2 separate regions of the Homo sapiens genome follow, and region 1 is linked to region 2. Evidence: fine-mapped expression QTL. Tissue or cell type: whole blood. Region 2 holds a variant in brackets; the other region holds the start of a gene. All regions are shown on one strand. Distances are between the middles of the regions.

Region 1 (2,621 bases), 960 kb after region 2:
AGTGAGCTGAGATCACGCCACTGCACTCCAGCTTGGGAAACAGAGCAAGACTCCGTCTCAAAAAAAAAAAAGAAGACCTGCGGCAAATTACTTTTTCCTACATCCTAAGGTAATTGTGATAATTAAGTGAAGTAATATGTGTAGAGCCCTTAGAACTTTACAATATTTGTAAAACCCTTAGAAGTTATAAAAATTATTTAATATTTAAATAATTTAATGAATGTACTTAATTCATTTAGTATTATGTATAAATATAAAATTATTTTATATTTGTAAAGCCCTTAGAACCGTGCCTGGCACACAGTAAAGCTCTGTTTGCAAATAATATTTTGGCTCACCAGTAGACCACTAGTTCATACTGCTTGATGATAAGCTATTCCGCCTCATTCGTCCTTGACCCCCTAAACAGGTCTATGCCTTGGTTGCTGGGAAGGTGTGTTGGCTTTATTAACAGTAATAGTGATATGTCCTTTTACCAGGCAATTGCATGGACCAGTATTTATAGGGAAGTTTGAGCCCTGCCGCAGAGGGGTTAAGTGATGGGAAAATGCCTGCCATTTTCACATGCTGTTACAACCAGGCAGTAAAAGTCCTCAGAAGTTAAATTTTAAGTAATCAGACTGGCCACTTTCCTTCCTCTGGGAATGCAGTTGGGATGGAGGGCTCTGTCTCTAGTTGGAAAGAAGTCTGAAGTCCCCTCCTGTGTGGACACCAGACAACAGGTATCCCAGGGCCCTCTAGTTGACCAGCAATACTGTGGAATGAAGACACCCTCAAGTCACATTTGAAATCATTCCGGGTTCTTCCAGTTCAGCACCTTGACTGTTTTCCTCTTCACTGGGAAGGTGCTGGCAGCCTGACGGCCTTTTAGGCTTCTTTTAAGTTTGGGGCATCTGAAACCCGGCCAAGGTGCGGCGGGTAGTGTACTCATTCGAAGGAGAATACCCCCAATTCACTAGACGAGCCCCTAATTGGGGGTGCGGTGCCGGGCGCGCTCTTTCCTCCCCCTTTCCACCAGCACTGCCCTCAGTTCTGCTTCTAGCCACGCCCTTTCGCGTTCACGTCCAGCGCCCTGGCGGGATTGATTTGAGGACGACTGGACTGCCATTGCGCCTGCGCAGGGAGCCCAAGGCAAGAGCCGCTAGGCTGCCCTGCCCGAAGGGCTCAACTGTCAGTGAGCCTGCGCAGGAGGCCAATAGGCTGCCAATACTCCTTGGACTCCCCGCCAGGGCCCTGCTGTCAGTGCGCCTGCGCGCGGGTCCGGCGCCGAGGTTCTTGACTGCTGTGCCGGACGCCAGGTGTAGCCATGCAGCGAGCCGATTCCGAGCAGCCCTCCAAGCGTCCCCGTTGCGATGACAGCCCGAGAACCCCCTCAAACACCCCTTCCGCAGAGGCAGACTGGTCCCCGGGCCTGGAACTCCATCCCGACTACAAGACATGGGGTCCGGAGCAGGTGTGCTCCTTCCTCAGGCGCGGTGGCTTTGAAGAGCCGGTGCTGCTGAAGAACATCCGAGGTAGCGGCTCCGGAGGGGCTGAGGGGCGAAGGGCGGCGACCTGGGGCGCGGGCCAGGCGCCCTGAGGGAGGGGGCCCCACGAGAGGACCGAGGCCGAGGAGCGAGCCCTGCGGCGGGAGGCACCCGGGAGGGCGGACCTGCGCTGGGGGCGCCGAGGAAAGGAAGACCCGAGGCGGGGGAGGGAGCCCTGCGGCGGGGGTTCCCAGGAGGGCCTGCGGCATGGGGCTCCCGGGACTGACTCCCCGAGGCGGAGGAAGAAGACATGGGGTCGCCTGGGATAGGCGATTCGTAGGATGGGAGCAGGCTCCCGGGATTGAGGACCTGGGAGGGGCAGTCGTAGATTGGGATCTCACTCTCGTGGGTTTCTTCACTAACTTGCCACCCCGGCGCGGGACAAGCGAGACTCGGGTCCCTTTTTTTTAGTTAGAAGGAGATTTTTCCCCAGACCTTGGTGGGCGGCTTGCTGTCATCCAGGCTCGCGGGACCCCTCCGCGCTAACCGCAGCTCCTTGAACACTTGCCACATCAGAGGATGTTCTGGGGCTTTTAGGTTTCGGTTTCCTCCCTGAATTGAGGCTTTTCCTGAAGGGGAAGGAACTGGCTTGGTTAATCTCTGAATTCCCATCACCTTCCTTGGCATCCCAGCAGCGCCCGATAGGCGTGTGTTGACTGCACTTGCAGAACATGGTAAGGAACATGTTTTGCTCTTTAAAAGCAGGTTCCCCTCCAAAATCTGAACCTTGGGGTTGTTCAGTTGACCACTGAATCCCCAGCATGCCACAGTTTGGCCACATCCCCTGGAGAAGTGTTTAGGTTGAGTTTTAATCATATTTTACTGATTCGTATCCAAGCATCCATCCTTGTGAATTCTACTCAACTTTTTGTGGTGGGTGTGAGATTTGACTCCTGCCTTATATCCTCTAGGTGTCCAATAGGAAGGTGATTCTTTGGTGGTTGGGATTTGCAAATTTAGTAAATTTTTGCATTTGTTAGGTGGGGCCCTGTTTGGCTAGGTTGGAAACTGGGGTAGGAGGAACATTAGTGGTTCAGGACCCAAAGATAGCTTGAATGGGTATGGGAAATTGCATTTCTCCTTTTTTTTTTTTCT
Region 2 (2,756 bases):
CCTCCCAAGAAGCTGGGATTACAGGCGGCCTCCACCACGCCTGACTAATTTTTTTGTATTTTTACTAGAGACAAGCTTTCACTACATTAGCCAGGCTGGTCTTGAACTCCTGACCTCGTGATCCGCCCGTCTTGGCCTCCAGAAGTGCTGGGATTACAGGTGTGAGCCACCGCACCTGGCCAAAATTAACCACTTTAAAGTGGACAATTGAGTCGCATCTAGTGCATTCACAATGTGATGCAACTAGTCCCAACATGCTGTCTTCCCCCCAGAAGGAAACTCCTCACTCCCCACTCTCCCCTAACCCCTGGCAACCTCAAATCTGCATTCTCACATTTGCCTACTCCGGATATTTCATATCATCTGCATCATATAATATGTGGTCTTTTGTGACTGGCTTCCTTCATCTAGCATAGAGTTTTTGAGGTTCATCTACCATTGTCGCACACATCAGTAATTCATTACTTTTCATAGAGGTGTTTCTTTAATACAATAAAATATCCTACCTAATCCCCAAAACAACCTGGGAAGTGGCCACTATCATTGTCCTCTTCTTACAGATGGGGAAACTGAGGCACGGAGTGGGTGGGGACTTGCCCAGGTTCCCTGCCAGACACCCCGACATAGCTGAGCAGGAAGTGCTGGAGCCGGCAAGCTGGAAGCAGGGCGCCTCCCAAGGCCACCAGCACATATTGAGGTAGACAGCAGTAGAATTACAAATCTAGGGAGATTTAAGGAGAACTAAAATATTCTGGCACTTGCAGGATTGTGGGAGTTGAGCAGGTTTCCCCAGTGGAATTCCCGCCTCCTCTTCCCACATGTCTGGGCCACAAGGAGTGAGAGCAGGTGGGAGGGAGGGAGGCAAGCGCGGGAGTGTTCAGGGAGCCAGAGATAGGGCAGGGGCGGGGGCAGGGAGCCAGGAGCCGGGAGCAGGCACACAGGCGTCCCGACGTCTCTACCGATACCATTTATTTTCATTCTCCCCAGTACATCCTGCAAAGCTAGTGGGGTGAGCCCATTGCACGGATGCATAACGAGGCTCAGAGAGGCTGGAGCGGGGCAGGATTTGAGCCTTAGTGTCAGATCCCAAAGCCGAGGCGCATAGCCATCCTCTGCTGCCGGGAGGGGCTAAGAGGGAAGAAGTGGGGGAAGCAAAGGAGGCTGCATCAATCACAGGGATGGATTTGCTCCAGCACGCCAGAAAGGAGCAGCCTCAGAGCCACTGAGGAGAAAGAACAGTGAGGGCTGTAAGGGGCGCTGAGGGTGGAGGCAGGAGGGCCAGGGACATGAAGGACGGGGCAAAAGGGGAGGCAGAGACCAACGGACAGGGACAGATGGAGGCAGGCACTTGGGATGTTCCAGAACAG[A/C]GGCTCTGAGGGTGCCCAGTGGGTAGGGTGGTGGTGGCCCCACCCTGACCAGAACCTGGCCTCGGTCAAACCTGACCCCCCACCCAGGACCTAGTACATGCCCCAGCCCCAGCCCCTGCCACCCCTGCCCAATCGTGTCTGCGAAATTCAAGGAAGCAACAGTAAATATGTGGGCTCCGGAGTCAGGCTGACCTGGATTTCAACCCAACTGCACCTCCTCAAGGTAGGTGAATCTCTGAGCTTCTAGCCCGGTTTCCTCATCTGTAAAATGGGTGCTGTGAGCGGTGCTGCAGTGACATCACGCAGGCACACAGTGGGCTCCCGGACAGGATCAGGCTGCTCTCCTGTCACCTCCTCACGTAGCCTGGCTCTACTTGAAGAAGCTCCTCCTTCTTCAAGGCTCCGGGCCCCTTGGACTTATTAAACCCTAGGGCTATTCTAGAACCAGAGAATTCATGGCTGAAGGGGTTGGGCCCCACCCCAGGACCTTGGCGCTTAGTGTTCCCAGAGCCTGGGAGGGAATTTCACAGGCCAAGAGCACAGAGCAAGAAGGCAGCAGCGCGGGTGGGGCCCGGGGCTTCCCGCACTAGCTGGAGGGTGTCTGAGGGCCATGGAGAGAGGAGCTGGTGGATCTGGGCCCTGTCCCAGGGGCCCTCAGCCGCTGTCCGACCGCCCCTCCCTCTCCTCCGCTGCCTGCCGGGAGACCATTAGTGAAGCTTTGTTTTGAGCACTATTTCCACTATCCTGCGCTCTGGCCGCCGGGCCTCCATTAGGGACCCTTTCCCGGACCGACGACAGGCGGCAAACAGCTCCCCAGCGAGCAGGCCCTAATTGCCGCCGCCTTCAACGCCGGAAATGATTTTTTTAAAACCTCACAAAGCAAAACAGACACCCCGCCGTCAGCTCTCCGCCTTCCCCACCTCGGGCCCCAGCCTGGGGGCTCTGAGGAAGGAGGGGTCAGTCAAGACCCCACCCCCATCCCAAGAGACACCCTTAAAATGCCGGGCTGGGGGAACATAGGGTTGGGCTCTGCACCCTTGCTTTGAACTAGGTGTGGGGCCCCAGCTCACCACGCCTCTCTAAGCCTCAGTTTTCCCCTCTGCAAGGTGGGCGTGTTGAATGGGAGCCCGATGCCTGCTGCGGGCCGTGCGATGCGGCTCTGACAGGTCATGTGCTTCTGGCTTCTCTAAGGGGTCCGTGGAGCACAGGGGAGCCAGGAGCCGGGAGACGGGAAGAGAGCACGAGGGGCAGAGGGAACAGCCAGGGAGAGAAAAGGTCTGGAAGGAACTTGGTGTGTGCAAGGACTAGAAAGGAGGCCAGTGTACACACACACACAACACACACGCATACACACAATACACACACACAAAATACACACATACACACAAT

What was found. PIP is the estimated chance that this variant, and not a neighbour inherited with it, causes the effect.
Region 1: SAMHD1 starts here. The variant in region 2 is fine-mapped to the expression of SAMHD1 in whole blood (INTERVAL, PIP above 0.99).

Annotation. Positions count from the first base shown.
Region 1 is chr20:36,950,329-36,952,949 of GRCh38, reverse strand. SAMHD1 (SAM and HD domain containing deoxynucleoside triphosphate triphosphohydrolase 1) reads left to right here and starts at 1,242. Exons shown (of 16, transcript NM_015474.4): 1 at 1,242-1,514. The coding sequence starts at 1,307. RefSeq lists a silencer at 1,528-1,747.
Region 2 is chr20:37,914,457-37,917,212 of GRCh38, reverse strand. All of the region lies in intron 1 of VSTM2L (V-set and transmembrane domain containing 2 like), which reads right to left. LOC124904896 (a long non-coding RNA gene) reads left to right here. Exons shown (of 3, transcript XR_007067576.1): 1 at 1-1,590. Among named protein-coding and RNA genes, the nearest start is that of VSTM2L, 13 kb to the right of the region's middle. RefSeq lists enhancers at 1,305-2,152, 2,153-2,756. The variant A/C (reference allele first, on the strand shown) is at 1,368.